2 linked regions of the Homo sapiens genome follow. The protein of the gene in region 1 purifies or fractionates together with the protein of each later gene. This does not show direct contact. Each region holds a gene or a part of one and is shown in the gene's direction. Other genes may lie near its edges.

Region 1 (11,237 bases):
AAAAGCTGTTGCCATAATCACGTTGAGACTCGTAGCTATTTCCATTTGTGCTATTTCCCAAAATGTTTTCCTTTACTTAGGTATTTTTTGAAAAGGGGGCTCTGTAGTCAAATAATTCTGGGAAACACTGAGTTAAACGAAGCATGTTTTCTTATAGGTAGAGGAAGGAAAAACCAGGGCAATAAAAATGTCGTGTTGGCTAGTATTTATTGATACTCGCCATGTGCCAGGCACTCTGTCTGCTAAATGTATCCCAAGCATCATTTCAATTAGTGCTCACAGCAAGACTGTGAGTAGCAGTGATGTTATCACTATGCTGAGCTGAGGACCAGAGTGGTGGGCACCTGCTTAAGCAGTGGTGGCAACAGTGGTGATGTGACCTCAGACAGTGTGACATCAGAGACTGTGCTTGTAATTAGCACGCCGCATTTAGATCACGAAAGCTTGGAATTAAGGACATACCCTGATCAAAAATGAAACAAAGCCCAAGTGATATGATTCTTTAAATGCCTTAAATGTAGCATCTTTCAGAGAGCAGCAATACAGCAGAAGCGTTGTAAGAACCCACATTTATTGTCTCCCTTTTGCTGAGGTTGGAACCGTGTTCATGGAAAGACCTTTGTCTCATTTAGTAAGTAATTCAGGGCCGGGCGCGGTGGCTCACGCCTGTAATCCCAGCACTTTGGGAGGCCGAGGTGGGTGGATCACAAGGTCAGGAGATCGAGACCAGCCTGGCTAACACGGTGAAACCCCGTCTCTAATAAAAATACAAAAAATTAGCCAGGCGTGGTGGCGGGCGCCTGTAGTCCCAGCTACTTGGGAGGCTGAGGCAGGAGAATGGTGTGAACCTGGGAGGTGGAGCTTGCAGCGAGCCGACATCTCGCCACTGCACTCCAGCCTGGGCGGAAGAGCGAGACTCCATCTCAGAAAAAAAATAGAATAAAATAAGTAGTTCAGGCACAGGTAGTTAAAAAGAGAAACTGCCAAGCTGCTGGTGTCGTGAGCAGCTTGTTAGTGGGCAAAACCACACACTTTCTTTCTAGTTTTGAATTCTCAGAGAACAAGAGACGCACACTTTCCATCTGGCTCAGGCCAAGAGAGGCAGGATTCTGCTTCGTCTCTAGTGTTATATATTGTGGAGAAGCCAGCATGCCAGCTGAGATGTTCTCATAGCAACTGCATCCATTTGAAGGTCCAAACTCACACAGATAATATACTGATAATAAATTGATTACAGCTGGTTGAGGTGGCTCACACCTGTAATCCCAGCACTTTGGGAGGCCGAGGCAGGCAGATTGCCTGAGGTCAGGAGTTTGAGATCAGCCTGGGCAACATGGTGAAACTCCGTCTCTATTAAAAATATAAAAATTATTAGCCAGGCGTGGTGACTCATACCTGTAGTCCCAGCTGTTCAGGAGGCTGAGGCAGGAGAATTGCTTGTACCCAGGAGGCGCAGGTTGCAGTGAGCTGAGATGTGTCACTGCACTCCAGCCTGGGTGACAGAGCGAGACTGTATCTCAAAAAAAAAAAAGTATAATTCCAGGGAAATATGGTAGGTTGCTTCCAAAGAGAGCCACAGCAGTATTTCCCACCCTGCATACCTTTTGCAATGAAACTTTGCCACTCCTTTCATCAAGAGGTGGATTCTGTTTTCCCTCTCTTTGCATGTAGGCTGGCTCTGTGACTTGCTTTGACTGTGAGAACAGGGTGGAAGTGACGCTGTTAGGCCTCTGGGGTTAAGTTGGTAAGAGGCCTTTCTTCTGTTTCTGTGCTCTTAGAATGCTTCCTTGAGACCAGCATTCTGTGAGGAAGCTCAAGGGGAAGTCCCATGGAGAGGTCATGTGAAGGAGAACCAGGGCGCACCTGCTGACAGCCCCAGCTGTGCACAGCCCTCCGCCAATGGCCCACTGAACGCAGCCAAGTGAGAAGCTCAGGCTAGCAGGTGGACCACAGAGCCAACCATAAGAAGCCAGGCACAGCAGTGTGCACCTATAGTCTCAGTGCCTGTAGTCTCAGCTACTTGGGAGGCTGAGGCAGGAGGATCCCACGAGACTAGGAATTTGAGGCTTCAGTGGGCAGTGATTGCACCCGTGAATAGCAACTGCACTCCAGCCTGGGCAACACAGTGAGATCTGATCTAAAAAAAAAAAAAAAGAAAGCCAATTATAAGAAAGAGTCGGCTGGCCGCGGTGGCTCACGCCTGTAATCCCAGCACTTTGGGAGGCCGAGGTGGGCAGATCACGAGGTCAGGAGATCGAGACCATCCTGGCTAACACAGTGAAACCCCGTCTCTACTAAAAATATAAAAAAATTAGCCAGACGAGGTGGCGGGCACCTGTAGTCCCAGCTACTCGGGAGGCTGAGGCAGGAGGATGGCGTGAGCCCCGGGGGGCAGAGCCTGCAGTGAGCCGAGATCGCGCCACTGCACTCCAGCCTGGGCGACAGCGAGACTCCATCTCAAAAAAAGAAAAAAAAGAAAGAAAGAAAGAGTCATCATTGGAGATCATGTCACCACTGTTTTTAGTCACCAAGTTTAATTTATGTAATAATAGATCATGGAAAAATGGAAATTTTAGATGATGCTTCTTGTTAAATCATTATTATAATAAGTATCTATAATAAAATATCAGCTGGGCAGGTGGCTCACACCTGTAATCCCAACACTTTGGGAGGACAACGTGGGTGGATCACCTGAGGTCAGGAGTTCAATCAACACCAGCCTGGCCAACATGGCAAAACTCCGTCAATACTAAAAATACAAAAATTAGCCGGGTGTGGTGGTACACACCTGTAATCCCAGCTACTGAAAAGGCTGAGGCACAAGAATCACTTGAACCCAGGAGGCGGAGGTTGCAATGAGCAGAGATTTTGCCACTGCACTCCAGCCTGGGTGATAGAGTGAGACTCTGTCTCAAAAATAAAATAAAATTAGAATATAAATAATATAATATTTTGTAATTACAAAAATTTAGGCCGGGTTTGGTGGCTCATGCCTGTAATCCCAACACTTTGGGAGTTTGGGACAGGAGGAACACTTGAGCCTAGGAGTTCAAGATGAGCCTGGGCAATGGATCAAGACCCTGTCTCAAAAAAATTTTTTTTAATTATTGATAACAATATTAAGAAATGGCTGAGCACAGTGGCTCACGCCTGTAATCCCAGCACTTTGGGAGGCCGAGGCAGGCAGATTGCCTGAGGTCAGGAGTTCGAGACCAGTCTGGCCAACATGGTGAAATCTCATCTCTACTAAATATACAAAAAAATTAGCCAGGCATGGTGGCGTGCACCTGTAATCCCAGCTACTCTGGAGGCTGGGGCAGGGGAATTGCTTGAACCAGGGAGGTGGAGGTTGCAGTGAGCCAAGATCGCACCACTGTACTCCAGCCTGGGCGACAGCAAGACTCTGTCTCAAAAAAAAAAAAAAAGTAGATATTAAGAGCCCACTCTTTGCAAAACTCTTTTATGAAGAAGGAGGGAGAAGTATGAATCCTGCCCTTTCACACTCACACTGAAAGAGGTATCTTTGTCAGCTCAAGGTGCTGTGAAATACATGGTGAGCCACTGAGCCTGGCCAGGAATTTTTATTAAAGACACACAATTCGGCCAGGCACGATGGCTCACACCTGTAATCCCAGCATTTTGGGAGGCTGAGGCAGGCAGATCACTTGACGTCAGGAGTTCAAAACCAGCGTGGCCAACATGGTGAAACCCCGTCTCTACTGAAAATACAAAAAAATTAGCCAAGTGTGGTGGTGGGCACCTGTAATCCCAGCTACTCGGGAGGCTGAGGCAGGAGAATCGCTTGAACCTGGGAAACGGAGGTTGCAGCAAGTTGAGATTGCACCATTGCACTCCAGCCTGGGCAACAATAGTGAAACTCCATCTCAAAAAAAAAATAATAATAAGGCCGGGCGCAGTGGCTTATGCCTGTACAGCACTTTGGGAGGCAGAGGCGGGCGGATCACGAGGTCAGGAGATTGATACCATCCTGGCTAACACAGTGAAATCCTATCTCTACTAAAAATACAAAAAATTAGCCGGGCGTGGTGGCGGACGCCTGTAGTCCCAGCTACTTGAGAGGCTGAGGCAGGAGAATGGCGTGAACCCGGGAGGCGGAGCTTGCAGTGAGCCAAGGTAGCGCCACCACTCCAGCCTGGGTGACAGAGCTAGACTCTGTCTCAAAAAAATAAATAAATGAAAATTTTTAAAAATAAAATAAATAAAAAAATTAAAACACACAATTCAGTCCACAGCAAGGGGACAACACCATGGGGGTAAATTTACCAGTGGGCACTGCAACAAAACGCTTAAGTGGATGTAATGAGTTGTACTGTGCCGTAATTGAAATGTTTCATTTTGGTCAGTCTTCTTATGGTTGCAAGTGACAGAAGTCCGATTTAAACTAGCTTAAACACAAAAGGAAATTTTTTGGTAACATAATTGGGAAGGGGCTGGGTGTGGTGGCTCATGCCTGTAATCCCAACACTTTGGGAGGCCAAGGCGGGTGGATCACCTGAGGTCGGGAGTTTGAGACCAGCCTGACCAACATGGAGAAACCCTGTCTCTGCTAAAAATACAAAATTAGCCAGGCGTGGTGGTGCACACCTGTAATCCCAGCTACTTGGGAGGCTGAGGCAGGAGAATCATTTGAACCCGGGAGGCAGAGGCTACGGTGAGCCGAGATCGTGCCACTGCACTCCAGTCTGGGCGACAGAGCAAGACTCTGTCTCAAAAAAAAAAAAAAAAAATCTAACTCTTATCAACATCTGACTTACAATTTATACTTTTATTTTACTTATTTCTTTATTGACTGTTTCCTTCTCCTACTGGAATATAAATTACGTGAGAGAATATATTTTGTCTATTTTGTTCAGAGACAAAACAGTTCAGAGACAAAATATTTATTAACCACAGTAGGTAGCTTAATAAATATTTGTTGAATGTTAAGCACTATGTATCATCTTAGATAATCTCTCAATCCTTTGAGGTAGGTACTATTATTAGACTCATTTTATAGGTTAGGAAACCAAGGCTTAAGTTAGAGAATTTATACACAATCATATTCCTAGAAAACTGAGAAGCTTGAAGCAGTAGCCAATGCAATTAGGTAAGAGAAAGAAACAAGAGGGTCAGGCACGGTGGCTCACACCTGTAATCCCAGCACTTTGGGAGGCTGAGGCGGGCAGATCACTGGGTCAGGAGATTGAGACCATCCTGGCTAACACAGTGAAACCCTGTCTCTACTAAAAATACAAAAAATGAGCCGGGTGTGGTGGCGGGCGCCTATAGTCCCAGCTACTCGGGGGGCTGAGGCAAGAGAATGGCGGGAACCTGGGAGGCGGAGCTTGCAGTGAGCCGAGATCGCGCCACTGCACTCCAGCCTGGGCAACAGAGCGAGAATCCGTCTCAAAAAAAAAAAAGAAACGAGGCATCACATTGGAAAGGTACAGGGAAGATTCTAATTTTAAACAGAATTTCTCTGACTCTAGTGCTTTCAACCGTAATATTACCATAATCATCATCATCATCATTAAGACCCTTTATTTTCAGAGCTGCACAGATAAGAGGTCTGTAATAAAAGCCAGGCTCAGTGGTTCATGCCTGTAATCCCAGCACTTTGGGAGTCTGAGGCAGATGGATCACTTGAGGTCAAGAGTTTGAGACCAGCCTGGGCAACACGGTGAAGCCCATCTCTACTAAAAATACAAAAATTAGCCGAGCATGGTGGCAGGCGCCTGTAGTCCTAGCTATTCAGGAGGCAGAGGCAGGAGAATCACTTGAACCCGGGAGGCGGAGGTTGCAGTGAGCTGAGATGGCGCCACTGCACTCTAGCCTGGGCAACAGAGAAAGACTCCAACTCAAAAAAAAAAAAAAAACGATCTGTAATAAAATAATCCATTTATTTTTTGTCCCGTTTCCCAGTGGCCTGATTCCACCAAGAGAAGGCCCAGGAGGAAGAAGAGAAAAAGATGCTGTGGTTACTAGTGCCAAAAATGCTGGCAGGAACAAGGAGGAGAAGACAATCATAAAAAAGCTGTAAGTGTCACCTTGCTGCCCCCCGGTCCCGCCAAATAATAACTCAAGGAAGTAGTCGGGGGCAAGAAGAGGCTGACCAGCTGCCCAGGGCAGGGAGGGCCTCTACTCTCCCGGTTGTGGTGCTGCAGCCCATGGGAAAACTCAATGCCAGTGTATTATAATGATATCTGCCAGGCAGTAGCCTAGGCACTTGGCATATATTAATTCATCGAATCATCACAGTGACCCTGCAAGGTAGATACTATTTTACAGATGGAGAAATAGCTACTGAGAGGTAAGGTAACTTGCCCAAGGTCTCACAGAGGGTAAATAGTGAAGTCAGGAACCCAAGGAAGTCTGGCTTCTACACTCCACTGCCTCCCTGTGATGTTTGACCAGGCTGGGTGCAATGGCTCACACCTGTAATCTCAACAGTGATTACAGGAGGCTGAGGCAAGAGATTCATTTGAAGCCAGGAGTTTGAGACTAGCCTGGGCAACAAAGTGAGACCCCATGTCAATGAAAAAACATCGTTTTGTTTTTTGTTTTGAGACAAAGTCTCACTCTGTCGCCTAGGCTGGAGTGCAGTGGTGCAATCTCGGATCACTGCAACCTCTGCCTCCCAGGTTCAAGCAGTTCTCCTGCCTCAGCCTACTGAGTAGCTGGGATTACAGGCATGCGCCACCATGCCTGGCTAATTTTTGTATTTTTGGTAGAGATGGGGTTTCACCATGTTGGACAGGCTGGTCTTGAACTCCTCGTGACCAACCTGCCTCAGCCTCCCAAAGTGCTGGGATTACAGGCATGAGCCACTGCGCCTGGCCAATTTTTTTTTTTTTAATTAGCTGGTATCATTTGTCGGCCTTTTAGCTGAGATCAAGTGAAATTAGCTGGGCGTGGTGGCCTGCACCTGTGGTCCCAGCTACTCAGGAGGATGAGACTGGAGGATTACTTAAGCCCAGGAGTTCAAGGCTGCAGTAAACTATTATCACTATTATCACGCTACTGCACTCCAGCCTGGGTAACAGAGCGTGACCCTATCTCAAAAAAAAAAAAAAAGAGAGAGAAAGAAAGAAAACAAAAATGATAATAGCGATGACCAGGCACGGTGGCTTACTCCTGTAATCCCAGCACTTTGGGAGGCTGAGGCGGGCAGATCACCTGAGGTCAGGAGTTCGAGACCAGCCTGGCCAACATGGCAAAACCTCGTCTCTACTAAAAATCCAAAAATTAGCCGGGCGTGATGGCAGATGCCTGTAATCCCACCTATTCGGGAGGCTGAGGCAGGAGAATCGCTTGAGCCCGGGAGGTGGAGGTTGCAGTGAGCCGAGATTGTGCCACTGCACTCTAGCCTGGGCAACAGAGCGAGACTCAAAAAAAAAAAAAAAAAAAAGGAATAACCCAGGCCTTCTTTCTCAGGGACAGGACCTTGAGGAGCTTGGAAGGGAGCAGGGGCAGAGGGCAAGGGGCAGGAGCACAGGGGAGAATACCTCTGGCCCAGCAGGAAAAAACCAAAGGAAGAGGCAGTCAGGCATGTAGCTTCCAGAGAGCAAAGTCATGGTTCTTCCTCTGGGGGCAGTGGTTCATGTGAGCTCAGTATGGTGGGCAGGGAAATAGCAGTTTTCTTCCCAATATTACTCAGAGGCTGTTGGGTTTAATTTGATGAGATGAAGTAGGACTGGGGAAAGGGAAAGATAATTCCCCATACCTTAAGATTCGCCATAGCTAAGCCAGATGCAGTGGCTTACACCTGTAATCCCAGTACTTCCGAGGTGGGTGGATCATTTGAGGTCATGAGTTCGAGACCAGCCTGGCCAACATGGTGAAACCCTGACTCTATTAAAAAATACAAAAATGAGCTGGGTGGTAGTGGCGTTCGCCTTAATCTCAGCTACTCAGGAAGCTGAAGCAGGAGAATCACTTGAGCTTGGGAGGCGGAGGTTGAGGTGAGCCGAGATGGTGCCACTGCACTCCAGTCTGAGCAACAGAGTGAGACCCTGTCTCAAAAAAAAAAAAAAAAAGATTTAACATAGCTCCCACTTAGTGAGCATTTGCTATGTGCCAGACACTGAGCTGAGTAAACATCTACTCAGGAGATCTGTTTTACAGACGGGCAAACTGAGAGTCAGAGAGGATCAATGACCTGCAAAGGTTACACAGCGGGTCAGTGGTGGTGGAACTCAGACCTGAAGCCGCATCTATTTACCTCCTAAGTGCATTCGCCCCTAATCTTGGGCTACATGGAATCTACGGCAGGGAAAACACCTTTCCAGAATGTTTCCTGCTGCACATGGTGATGCTCAGGAAATGGAATCAAGAGTCAAACTCGACCGGGCGCAGTGGCTGACGCCTGTAAACCCAGCACTTCGGGAGGCTGAGGTGGGAGGATCACCTGAGGTCAGGAGTTCGAGACCAGCCTAGCCAACATGGTGAAGCCCCGTCTCTACTAAAAATACAAAAATTAGCCGGGCATGGTGGCGGGTGCCTGTAATCCCAGCTACTCGGGAGGCTGAGGCAGGAGAATCGCCTGAGCCCAGGAGGCAGAGGTTGCAGTGAACTGAGATTGCACCACTGCACTCCAGCCTGGGCAACAAAACGAGACTCTGTCTCAAAAAAAATAAAAATAGGCCGGGCACAGTGGCTTACGCCTGTAATCCCAAGACTTTGGGAGGCCGAGGTGGGCGGATCACCAAGCCAAGAGATCAAGATCATCCTGGCCAACATGGTGAAACCCCGTCTCTGCCAGGCGCAGTGGCTCAGGCCTGTAATCCCAGCACTTTGGGAGGCCGAGGCGGGAGGATCACGAGGTCAGGAGATCGAGACCATCCTGGCTAACATGGTGAAACCACGTCTCTACTAAAAATACAAAAAAATTAGCCAGGCATGGTGGCAGGCTCCTTTAATCCCAGCTACTCAGGAGGCTGAGGCAGGAGAATGGCATGAACCCAGGAGGCGGATGTTGCAGTGAGCCAAGATCACACCACTGCACTCCAGCCTGGGCAACAGAGCAAGACTCTGTCTCAAAAAAAAAAAAAAAAAAAAGAAACCCCGTCTCTACTAAAAATACAAAAATTAGCTGGGTGTGGTGGCGTGTACCTATAGTCCCAGCTACTTGGGAGGCTGAGGCAGGAGAATCGCTTTAACCTGGGAGGCTGAGGCAGGAGAATCGCTTTAACCTGGGAGGCAGAGGTTGCAGTGAGCCAAGATCGCACCACTGCACTCCAGCCTGGGCGACAGAATGAGACTGTGTCTGAAAAAAAATAAATAGATAAAAATAAAAATTAAATAAATAAAAATACAAAATTAGCCATGGCCTCTGTAATTTCAGCTACTCGGGAGGCTGAAGTAGAATAATCACTTGAACCTGGGAGGAGGATATTGCAGTGAGCTGAGATCACACCCCTGCACTCCAGCCTGGGCAATAGAGCAAGACTCCATCTCAAAAAAAAAAAAAAAAAGAAAAAAGGGAGTCAATATCCTCTTGATAACCAGAATAGAACTGGAGCAACAGGCAGTTTCAGCCTGGCTGTGGGAAATGCCCAAGGACCTCTCCCTGTCCCACGTGGGACCATTCCTCTTGAATGAGCCGTGTCCCAGCATTGGAACATGCTATGCACTTTCCTCTGAATACTTCCCTCATGTCTGTGCACCAGGGTTGATCCCATAGTTCTTCGGATGCTGCCTCTTATACTAAGAGTGAGGTGCTTGTGTAAAATTCAGATTCTCAGAAATCAAGTCAGTAGGCCGGGCGCAGTAGCTCACACCTGTAATCCCAGCACTTTGGGAGGCCGAGGCGGGCAGATCACAAGGTCAGGATATGGAGACCATCCTGGCTGACCATCCTGGCTAACATGGTGAAACCCCATCTCCACTAAAAATACAAAAAATTAGCCGGGCATGGTAGTGGGCGCCTGTATTCCCAGCTACTCGGGAGGCTGAGGCAGGAGAATGGCGTGAACCCAGCAGGCAGAGCTTGCAGTGAGCCGAGATCGTGCCACTGCACTCCAGCCTGAGTGACAGAGCGAGACTCCGTCTCAAAAAAAAAAAAAGCCGGGCGCAGTGGGTCACACCTATAATCTCAGCACTTTTGGAGGCTGAGGCGGGCAGATCACAAGGTCAGAAGATTGAGACCATCCTGGCCAACATGGTGAAACCCCAAGCCTGTAGTCCCAGCTACTCAAGAGGCTGAGGCAAGAGAATTGCTTGAACCCGGGAGGCAGAGGTTGTAGTGAGCTGAGATTGCGCCACTGCACTCCAGCCTAGCAACAGAGCAAGACTCTGTCTCAAAAAAAAAAAAAAAAAAAAAAAGAAAGAAAAAGAAAAAGAAATCAAGTCAGTGGTTCTTGGATGAAGCTCAGAAATCTGGATTTTTTTCAAAAGTTCCTTGGACCACACTGATATGTGCCCTCTTAGTTGCCAGGTGTCAGGACAGTAGGCTGCAGCTTTCCTGTACTCCATTCATTCAACAAATATTTACTGAGGGTCTGCCATGTGCCAGGCACTGTTGTAGGTGCTGAAGATACAGCAGTGAACAGAACCTAAAGTCTCTGGCTCGTGGACCTTACATTCTAGTAGAGGGAGTCAGAGAGTGAACAGGTAAAGAAATATATTAACAGGACAATTTCAGATAGCTATATGTGCTATGATCACAAATAAGGGGACAGAACGGGAGAGAGAGGACTACTTTAGATTTGGGTTATCTTTTATCACAGCAGTGGGAAAAAAAACACAAGAAAATCGAGTTGGGAAGTCCTGGAAGGCTTCTGTGAGGAGGTGACATTCAAACTGATCACTGAAGTACATTAAAGACCGGAAGGAAGAGCATTCCAGGACAGGAGCAGTGGCTCATGCCTGTAATCCCAGCACTTTGGGAGGCCAAGGCCAGAGGATCGCTTGAGCCCAAGAGTTTGAGACTAGCCTGGGCAACATAGAGAGCTTTTTTGTAGAGACCTCATCTCTACAAAAAAGAATAAAATTAGCCGGGTATGTGCCTGTAGTTCCAGCTACTTGGGAGGATCTCTTGAGCACAAGAGGTCCAGGCTACAGTAGGCCATGGTCACACCACTACACTCCAGCCTGGATGACAGAGCAAGATCCCGTCTCCCACCAAAACAAAAGAGCATTCCTGGTAGACGGGACAGTAAGTGTAAGAGCTTCAGGCTACAGAAATTCCCAGAACAGGCCAGGCACAGTGGCTCACGCCTGTAATCCCAGCACTTTGG
Region 2 (11,237 bases), on another chromosome or scaffold:
TGCTTGAGTTTAGGAGTTCGAGACCAGCTTGAGCAACATAGCAAGACCTCATCTCTACTAAAAAAGTTTATTTTTTAAAGTCGGATATGGCGGTGAGTACCTGTAGTCCCAGCTATTTGGTAGGCTGAGGTGGGAGGATCACCTGAGCCCAGGAGATCAAGGCTGTAGTGAGCTGATTATAGCAGTGCATTCCAGCCTGGGTGACACAGCGAGACCCTGTCTCAAAAAAAAAATAAATTTTAAAAAGAGTTGTATAATACTATTTTGACCTTTGTCTTAGTTTTTGTGTTTTGTTATTCAAAGAAGTGTATCCCAAGTCTTTTCAGGTCTTAGCTTTGCTTTTTTTTTTTTCTTTTTAAAGACAGGGTCTCACTCTGTCAGGTTAGAGTGCAGTGGCACAATCACAGCTTACTGCAGCCTCTACCTCCTGAGCTCAAGCTATCCTCCCAGCCTAGCCTCCCAGGTACCTAGGACCACAAGCGTGCTATATCATGTCTGGCTAATTTTTATTTTTGTGGTGATGGGGTCTTACTGTGTTGCCCTGGCTGGCCTCAAATTCTTGGGCTCAAGCAATCTTCCTGCATTGGCTTCCCAGAATGTTGGGATTATACACATGAGCCACTGTGCCCAGCAGGCTTACTTTCAAATATATTTTTGAGCTAGAATTATATTTATGCTCTGAAATGGTACACATGTATAAAGAATTATACCTATTTCCTCACTAGCCCCAGAATACTGATGTGAGTTGGCGTGGAGGTGTAGTAGGTTGTAAATTGGTGGTCTGATTGCTAAAGCTTTTTTAAAAAACAGGCTGAAAATATCTTAACACTTATAAATTTATATATAAGGTAATTTTCCCTTTTTTATACTTCATTGATCATTTATTTATTGGCTTCGGCTTCGTTCCATCAGCCTGCTTGCACCTAACTTACAGGTGTTCTTAGTAGAACAGTGACTTCTAAAGCTACAGATAATTTATCTTCTCTTTGAGTGGAGGTTCATGTTAGTGGCTCTGGTAACTTGCAGTGTTTAGGATGTGGGTAGATTATTACAGGTCACTGTGATAATTTGTCCATTTAGCAGCTGGGAGCTTTTAAAACCATGCTTCTGTACTTCTTTGGGATCATGGACCCCTTTGAGAAATTAGAATCTTACCAGAATGATGTACTTATACAACTTGCAAAGTTTTATGTGTGCTCCTTGGAATTATTGATGTCCCCGAAGTCCATCCTTAGATTCTGAGATCAAAATGCCTCTTACTTTTAGCACATGGCAGGATTTTAGGAGCACCTGGTATATTGCTGCTTATTACTGGATATTTGCCAAGTTGCCTTTGTTTTAGCAGTAACATAAATTAAGAGGCACTAAATTCAGATAAGACCATGGAATCCCTAAATAGGGAGTTTCTTTTTTTTTTTTCTTGAGACGGAGTCTCGCTCTGTTGCCCAGGCTGGAGTGCAGTGGTGCTATCTTGGCTCACTGCAAGCTCTACCTCCCGGGTTCACACCATTCTCCTGCCTCAGCCTCCTGAGTAGCTGGGACTACAGGGCGTCCATCAACACACCCAGCTAATTTTTTGTATTTTTAGTAGACACGAGGTTTCACTGTGTTAGCCAGGATGGTCTCAATCTCCTGACCTCGTGATCCGCCCGCCTCGGCCTCCCAAAATGCTGGGATTATAGGCATGAGCCACCGCATCCAGCCAGCGAGTTTCTTTATAGTATATTATAATTTTTTTTTTCCCGAGACAAAGTCTTGCTCTGTCACCCAGGCTGGAGTGCAGTGGTATCATCTCAGCTCACTGCAACCTCCACCTCCTGGGTTCAAGTGATTGTCCTGCCTCAGCCTCCCAAGTAGCTGAGATTACAGACGTGCATCGCCACACCCGGCTAATTTTAGTAATTTTAGTAGAGACAGGGTTTTGCCATATTGGCCAGGCTGGTCTCGAACCCCTGACCTCATGTGATCCACCCACCTCAGCCTCCCAAAGTGCTGGCTTTACAGGCGTGAGCCACCACATGCGGTATAATTTTTCTTTGTTAAGCTTGTGATTCTACTAAGGGTATCGTCCTTGCAACAAAAGAGTTGTTTCCTCCCTAATCCCACCTTTGTCTACCCCCTTTTAAACTGTCATTGACCCTTGAACTGCAGGTTCACTTACACATGGATATTTTTGTTTAAAGAGATGGGGACTCGCAGTGTTGCCCAGGCTGGTCTCAAACTCCAGGGGTCAAGTGATTCTTCCTTCTCAGCCTCCCAAGAAGCTGGGATTACAGGTGTGTGCCACCACACCCAGCTCTATAAACAGGTTTTTAAAAACAAATCTTTTGGAAAAAATGTTAGAGACTTGCAACAACTTGAAAAACTCACAGACAAGCCACATAACCTAGAAATATTGGGCGGGGGGGAAATTAAGAAAAAGTTAAGTATATTATGAATGTCTAAAGTATATGTAGATACTAGTCTATTTTATTACTACCATAAAACATACACAGATCTATTATTAAAAGTTTAAATTTATTAACACTCAAACACACAGAGCCCATACAAGGCACCTTTTGCATCAAGAGAAATGTAACAGAGATGCAGTATTAAATCATAATTGCATAAAAATAACTAATACATACTGTACTACTGTGATAATTTTGTAGCCACCTCCTGTTGCTATTTTGGTGAGCTCGTATGTTTCCAAGTGTCTGCTTAAAACACCATGTGATGTGGATCATCTCCCCGTGAACAGTTTGTGTCTCCAGTAAATCCCATATTGCAATCAAAAGAGGTCTTTTGTGGTTCTTGCGTGTTTTCATCGTGTCTAGTGCAATACCATAAACCTTGAATAACACCATCAGACCTATACAAAGTGCCACTAGTGATGCCAGAAGCAATCCTGAGAAACAGAAAAGTCATGACATTACAAGAAAAAATTGAATTGCTTAATATGTACTGTAGAATGAGGTCTGCAGCTGTGGTTGCCCGTTATTTCAAGATAAATTAATCCAGCATAAGGACCATTTTAAATAAAAGAAAATTTGTGAAGCCATCACTGCAGCCACAGCAGGAGGTGTGAAACCTTGCACTTTTTACAGAATACCTTTTTATCTCATGTTGAAAATGCAGCTCTTATGTGGGTACAGGATTGCTATAAGAAAGGCATACTTGTAGGCTGGGCGCGGTGGCTCACGCCTGTAATCCCAGCACTTTGGGAGGCCAAGGCGGGCAGATCACGAGGTCAGGAGATCGAGACCATCCTGGCTAACACGTTGAAACCCCGTCTCTACTGAAAATACAAAAAATTAGCCAGGCGTGGTGGCGGGCGCCTGTAGTCCCAGCCACTCGGGAGGCTGAGGCAGGAGAATGGTGTGAACCCGGGAGGCAGAGCTTGCAGTGAGCTGAGATCACACCACTGCACTCCAGCCTGGGCGACAGAGCGACTCTGTCTCAAAAAAAAAAACAAAAAAAAAGGGCATACTTGTAGACTATGATATTCAAGAAAAAGTGAAGTTATTATATGACAACTTAAAGCAAAACGGAAGAGAAGCTAGAGGAGTTAATGCCAGCAAAGAATGGTTTGATAATTTTAGAAAGAGGCTTGGCCTAAAAATGGCAGGCTAACAGGAGAAGCAGCTTCTGCTGACTAAGACACAGCAGACAAGTTCCTGGGCACCGCTGAACAAGTCTTTAATGCAGTTAAAAGTGTCCTATTCTCGGGGTGGCAGGGAGGGGGGCAGGCCACAAAGGACATGAGTGTTAGGAAAAGAAGAAAGCACAGGGAATTAAGGCAGGAAGGGATAGGCTAACTACTGTTCTGTGCAAATGCAATTGGGTTTATGATCAGGACTGACTGCCCTTACGTATAAAGTTGCTAACCCCCAAGACCTGAAGGGAAAAGTCTTTTGAAGCTGCCAGTTTTTTGATCATTCAACAAGAAGACCTGAACACTGAGAATCCTTTTTCTGGATTGGTTCCATCAATACTTTGTCCCTGAAATCAGGAAATACCTTGCCATTATGGGACAGCCCTTTAAAGTTCTTTTGATGTTGGACAGTGCCCCTGGCCACCCAGAACCCCATGAGTTTAACACCGAAAACATTGAAGTGGTCTACTTGCCCCCGAACACAGTCTCTAATTCAGCATCTAGATCAGGGGATCATGAGGACCTTTAAGGTTAATAACACACGGTACTCTAACCTCAATAGAACATCATGAAAATCTGGAGGAATTACACCGCTGAAGATGCCATCGTTATAGAAAAAGCCATGAAAGCCATCAAGCACAAAACAGTAACTTCCTGCTGGAGAAAACTGTGTACCGATGTTGAGCATGATTTCACAGGATTTGTAGCAGAGCCAGTCAAGGAATTTATGAAAGAGACTGTGGATAAGACAAGAGCTAATAGACATCAACCAGAGGAATCAACAGAAGATGATTTAATGAAGATGCCGGTGCTTCCAAACCAGCGTTGGACGATAAGGAAGAAGGCAAAGAAGTAGTGCCAGAAAACAAATTGACTGTAGACAATCTGGCAGAAGGGTTCTGATTATTCAAGACTGCTTTAGACTTACTGTACAACATGGACCATTGTGTGATACAGGCACTGAAACTGAAGCAAATGATGAAAGAAGGATTGGTTTTGTATAGAAATATTTTTAAAGAAATGAAAAAGCAAAAAAGAAATTACAATGTTTTTCCGTAAAGTTAAACTGAGTGTGCCTGCCTCCCCTTCCACCTTCTCTACCTCTTCTGCCTCTGCCTTCCCTGAGACAGCAAGACCAACCCCCTCCTCTTTCTCCTCCTCAGCCTACTCAATTTGAAGACATTGAGGATGAAGACCTTTATGATGATCCACTTCCACTTAATGAATAGTAAATATATTTTTCTTCCTTATGATTTTCTTAATAACATTTTCTTTTCTCTAACTTTATGGTAAGAATACAGTATAGAATACATATATAAAATATGTTAATCGACTGTTACTGATAATACTTCTGGTTAGCATCAGGCTGTTACTAATTAAGTGTTTGGGGAGTAAAAGTTATACATGGTATACCCTTACCCCCATTGTTCAAGGGTCAACTGTATGTTGTTTTAAATCAGCATATTTTATAACTTTCCTAGTTTTTTTTTTTCTTATAGCTACAGGAAATGAAGTAACCGCAGCCATTTGGCAGTTTTGTTGCTGTTGTTTTTCTTATTGTTGTTGTTGCTTTTTTTTTTTTTTTTTTTTTTTTTTTTGAGACAGGTTCTTGCTTTGTTGCCCTGGCTGGAGTGCAGTGGCAGTGATAATAGTTCACTCCAGCCTTGAGCTCTTGGGCTCAAGTGCTCCTCCTGCCTCAGCTTCTTAAAGTGTTGGGATTACAGGCATGAGCCCCCGTGCTCAGCCTATTGTTGTTTTTGAATACTTTTTAAAATTGTGGTGAAATACATACAACATGAAATTTTCATTTTAACTATTATTTTGGTGTATAGTTCAGTGGTGTTAAGTACATTCTACTGTTGTGCAACCGTCACCACCATCCATTTCCAGAACTTTTTCATCTTTCTGAACTCAAGCTTTGCATCCATTAAACAATGATTTCTGTCTCCCCCTTTCCCCATCTCCTGGCAACTGTCACCATTCTATTTTCTATGAATTTGACTGTTATAGGTACCTCATATAAGTGGAATCATATAGTATTTGTTCAATTTGTAAGTAATTTACTTCATTTAACATAAAGTTTTCAAGGTTCATCTACATTGTAGCATGTGTCAGAACTTGTTTATTTTTTGAGGCTGAATAATATTCCATTGTTTTTATATGCCATGTTCTGTTTATTCATTCACCCATTGTTGGATATGTGGGTTGTTTTCACCCTTTTACTATTGTGAATAATGTTGCTGTGAACACTGGTGTACAAATATCTGAGTCCCTGCTTTAAATTCTTCTGCGTGTATACCCATGAGTGGAATTGCTGGATCATATGATAATTCTGTGTGTAACCTTTTGAGGAATCACCAGACTTTTCCACAGTGATTGCACCATTTTACATTCCTACCAACAGTACACAAAGGTGTCGGTTTCTCCACATCCTCGCCAATATGTGTTTTCTGTTTTTTTAATAGTAGCCATACTAATGGGTATGTAGTGGTATCTCTCATTGTGGTTTTTGATTTGCATTTCCTAATCTTAGTGATATTGAGCATCTATTCATGTGCATATTGTTTGTTTGTATATCTTCTTTGAAGAAATGTCTATTCAAATCCTTTGCTTGCTTTTTTTTTTTTTTTTTTTTAAATTTTTTCCAGACAGGTTCTTGCTCTGTTCCCCAGGCTGGAGTACAGAGGCATGATGATCATGGCTCACTGCAGCCTCAACTTCCCAGGCTCAAGTGATTCTCCTACCACAGCCTCCTAAGTAGCTGGGACTACAGGCACACACCACCGTGCCTGGCTAATTTTTAAATTTTTTGTAGAGATGAGGTCTCACAGTGTTACTCAGGCTAGTCTCGAACTCCTGGGCTCAGGCAATTTTCCTGACAGCCTCCCAAAGTGCTGTCATTTTTTGTTGTTGTTAGGAGTTTTAGGTGTTTTTTATATATTCTAGGTATTATTCCCTTTCAAATACATGATTTACAAATATTTCCTCCTTTTTGTGGGTAGTCTTTTCATTCTCTTGATAGCGTCCTTTGTTGCACAGTAGTTTTTAACTTTGATGAAGTACAGTTTAACTACTTTTTCTTTTATTGCCTGTGCTTTTGGTATCATGTCAAAGAAACCATTGCCAAATCCAGTGTCCTGAAGCTTTTCCCTATGTTTTCTTCTAAGAGTTTTATAGTTTGAGGTCTTTGATCTAGTTCAAGTTAATTTTTTTATATGGTTTAAAATAAGGATCCAGCTTCATTGTTTTGCATGTGGATATCTGGTTTTCCTAGTGCTATTTATTGAAAAGACTGTCCTTTCCCTATTGACTGATTTTGGCATCCTTGTCGAGGGTCATTTGACTAAGTATGTGAGGATTTATTTCTGGGCTCTCTATTCCATTCCATTAGTCTGTGTATCTGTCTTTATGCCAGTTCCACACTTTTTGATTTGCAGTAAGTTCTGAAATTTGACTCCCCCAGCTAATATTATTTTGGCTGGGCTCAGTGGCTCATGCCTGTAATCCTAGCTCTTTGGGAGGCCGATGGGGGTGGATCACTTGAGGCCAGGAGTTCGCGATCAGCCTGGCCAACATGGCAAAACCCCCCATCTCTACCAGAAAACTACAAAAATTAGCTGGCATGGTAGTACACACACCTGTAGTCCCAGCTACTCACAGCTACTCAAGAGGCTAAGGCAGGAGAATCGCTTGAACTCGGGAGGCGAAAGTTGCAGGAAGCCCAGATCACACCACTGCACTCCAGCCTGGGCAACAGAGCAAGGCTCTGTCTCAAAAAGAGAGATTCTTTTGATGTTAGATTCCATATGAATTTTTGGATAGATCTTTCTATTTCTGCAAAAATTGTCATTGGGATCTTAAGGGGACAACCACTTGTTTTTAACTGATTTTTCTGCATGGACCTCCTTGTGCCATAGCAGCACAGCTATTTGAGAGTTTAAGGCTCTATAAAATGTTTAATTAAGGCTTCTATAGGGTAGTATGCATTATAAAATCTGAAATGATCCAGCCTGGATTTAGATTATGCAAGTTTCTTTGCTTGTATCTTCTCTTTTGGTAAGAAAGAACATACCTAGAAAGTAGACAGCCTCCTTTAGGGAGGAAATAGTATTTGACATGGATATGTCTTGGGAATTGCGTTTCTTTTGCTAGGTAATCTAAGAATTTGTGTAGGCTTTTAGTATGGAGTAGTTTTAGGGTGACTGCTTTAAAACTTCAAAGCTATAGAAATGACCCTCTAAATTGAGAGAATAAAGTCACTTTTAAAGACTGTTAAGCCGTAATTCATGGTAGTATGTAAAAGTAAAATTTTATTTCATTTTAGCATGCCAATGAAGATGTGGAAAGAATGTTACTAGGAAACAAGTGTGATATGGACGACAAAAGAGTTGTACCTAAAGGAAAAGGAGAACAGGTAAAAATCTGAATTAAACTGATACTCTGCTCTGTCTTTGTAAAGGTAATGCTACTTTTGATTATTTTTATAGTAATAGTGATCGAACACACTAAGCTAATTACATAGTTTTTAAAATGCTTGTTGGAAATAATATTTTATCATTTGAGTGAATTTTTTTTCAGTGCATATTTAACATGTATGGGAGAATCAAATGTGCCCATAGTATTTTTAGCCTTATTTAAACTACAAAGAGAGAAAAATATAAGTCATTAATCCTCGGTTTTTAAACTTAGGACTTTAAGGAAATGTATCAATTAGTATGGTTCTAAAATGTGACAATCAGGAGCCTATGGTGAGCAGAAATTAGACCCTGAGGAGTCAGGTTGAGCTTCTCATAAGTTTGCCCCCAGTGTGAAGTATCTGACTTAGAATATCTGAAATAAACTTTTGGGGTAAGGAGATTACTTTTCTTTTGTTTGTTTTATGAAAGAGCTTGACTTGCTGAAATATTCTGTGTTATATATTCTAGTTGGGACCACTGCCTTCAGAATAAGATTAATATTTAAGCTGTTAAAGTCAGCAGTTGGCAACCCATGCTTGATAATTTTATGATGATATTTTGTTTCTGTTTTAGATTGCAAGGGAGCATGGTATTAGGTTTTTTGAGACTAGTGCAAAAGCAAATATAAACATCGAAAAGGCGTTCCTCACGTTAGCTGAAGATATCCTTCGAAAGGTAAGTTCCTGTTTTTATATCCTGCCAGGTACCTGAGTATCTCTGTTGAATATTTTGTCTATTCTGAAGTACTGGATTTACATACAGAATTTGAGTTTGGGTGGTATTGTTTCTGTAGGGCAGCAGTCCCCAGCCTTTTTGGCACCAAGGACTGGTTTCATGGAAGATAATTTTTCCATGGACCGTACTGGGGGGTAGTTTCACCCAGAAACTACCCCACCTCAGATCATCAGGCGTTAGATCCTCCTAAGGAGCACGCAACCTAGATCCCTTGCATGTGCAGTTCACAGTGGGGTTTGCACTCCTATGAGAATCTAATGCTATCACTGATCTGATGGGAGGCGGAGCTCAGGTAATAATGCTCACTCACTTGCTGCTCACCTCCTGCTGGGTGGCCCCGTTCTTAACAGGCCACGGACCGGTAAGAGTCCACAGCCCCGGGGTTGGGGACTTGTGCTATAAGGAACTGGGGAAACAGAAAGCCATCTAGAAATCTGAAGGATCTAGTCAGTGGTAACCATTAATATTCTGAGCTCCACAGTCACTGTCTAGTCCCTAGTTCAATTATTTTTTCCAGCTTTTTGTCTTTTCTAGCCTTTTTACTCTTGGACTCATTTCGCTTAATGAGTACTTTGCATTCTCAAAGATAATTTAGGAAATTTTAAGAAATGAATCTATTAAGTAGTTATTGCCACAGAATTGCTATTCTGCCATATTAGTCACTTCTCAGGCAAATAAAGGGCGTGTACATATTCTGTACGTACTGAATAAAACCTATTATGTAAGAAAATAAATAATGCTGAAAATGTGATCTTGGGGAATTTATATTTTACCTCAGGTTTGTTTCTGGGTTTAAGATTTGTGACTCTCAATATTTGCTAGTGTAAGTAACATGTAGTCAAATTAGGAAATCGGATTTTCGTATTTTCCCTCGAGTGAATAGGTATAATGCATGGATTTGGTTATGAGTCCTGAATTCTCTGTTCAATCTGTTGAAATTTTAAATGCAAATAAATACAGATAAAATCTGACATACATTGGCCAGGCGCGGTGGCTCACGTCTATAATCCCAGCACTTTGGGAGGCTGAGGCGGGTGGATCACGAGGTCAGGAGATGAGACCATCCTGGCCAACACGGTGAAACCCCATCTGTACTAAAAATACAAAAATTAGCTGGGTGTGGTGGCACGTGCCTGTAATCCCAGCTTCTTGGGAGGCTGAGGCAGAAGAATCCCTTGAACCAGGGAGTCAGAGGTTGCAGTGAGCCGAGATCACGCCACTGCATGCCAGCTTGGGGACAGACCAAGACTCCATCTCAAAAAAAAAAAAAAAAAAAAAAAAAAAAATCTGACACACATCCTAAAAGAGAAGCAGATGTTGTATAGGAGAAAATGTAATTACATTTGGTAACCTTTCTATTTTTATATTTGAAATATTAATATATTTTTCTAAAACCAACCTATACATAAAAGGTAGATGTTTGTTTTTAAATTTTCTTAACCAACCAGTTTTCTTTCTCCACTTTGGAAGGACAGAGACATTAGCTGTAGTAGAGGTGGTATGTCACATATAAATCTAGTGAAATTTCTGAGCAATTATAAGAGATTGAGTTGAGATATTTACATTGAAGTAAATTATATAGAGGCATTAAAACTAAGGGACCTAATTTTTAGAGTGAAATGTAGGTATCTGTTTACTACAATTGAATATTCAAACTGGAAAAAACAGTCATCAGTTATTGCTCTTCAATGGGACTAAAAAATTGGTGCCCTTTTGAGTCTGCCAGCTTCCTTGCATATCATATTTTGGGATTTCCTGCTTTAGGAGATGTTTTTCTATGAGAATCCAGTCAGATCAAAAATTGAATTTTATTTCAGAGAATGAGAGAGGCTGACAGCAATTAAAATAAGTATAAAAGATCTCCATAGTGTATTGAGTGATAAAAAGCAAATTAGGATATAATATGTGAAGTGATCTCATTTTTCAAGATTATATGATACCAAACATACATATGTACACGCAGATACATTTTGTTATTTTTAGCAACTAGAGAACTGGAAGGGTAGATACCAAAGTCTAAATAGCACTCCAAGAGAGTGATGGTGGTAAGGGGGACGGATCATAGGGCAGATTCATTTACCGACTATAGGCAGTTTAGTTTTGAAATTTCAACAGCTTTCTTTTTTGAATTATAAAAACAATTTTAAGATTTTTTTTGAAAGAATAGTCTTTCACAATTGAGTTAAGGTGAAACCCATTAGAATTTCTTGAGAAAATAAATCTATATTATTTATTGTTCTTTTGAAGAGCAAAAGAATAGAAGAATACAACTAGGAAAAAATGTGTTTCTTTCTTTCCTTTTTTTTTTCTTTTTGTGACAGGGTCTCACTGTGTTTCCCAGGCTGAAGTGTAGTGGCTGTTGGCAAGTGTGATCATGCTGGCCATAGCCTCAAATTCCTGGCCTCCAGTGA

What was found.
Region 2: the proteins of RILPL2 (region 1) and RAB10 purify together in Homo sapiens (co-immunoprecipitation; 2 studies listed by IntAct). This does not show direct contact.

What each region holds. Positions count from the first base shown.
Region 1 is NC_000012.12:123,417,843-123,429,079, reverse strand, and holds part of RILPL2 (RILP-like protein 2), read left to right. Parts: intron 1-5,922; coding exon 5,923-6,036; intron 6,037-11,237. UniProt on the Homo sapiens protein: Involved in cell shape and neuronal morphogenesis, positively regulating the establishment and maintenance of dendritic spines. Plays a role in cellular protein transport, including protein transport away from primary cilia.
Region 2 is NC_000002.12:26,119,186-26,130,422, forward strand, and holds part of RAB10 (ras-related protein Rab-10), read left to right. Parts: intron 1-7,958; coding exon 7,959-8,048; intron 8,049-8,664; coding exon 8,665-8,766; intron 8,767-11,237. UniProt on the Homo sapiens protein: The small GTPases Rab are key regulators of intracellular membrane trafficking, from the formation of transport vesicles to their fusion with membranes.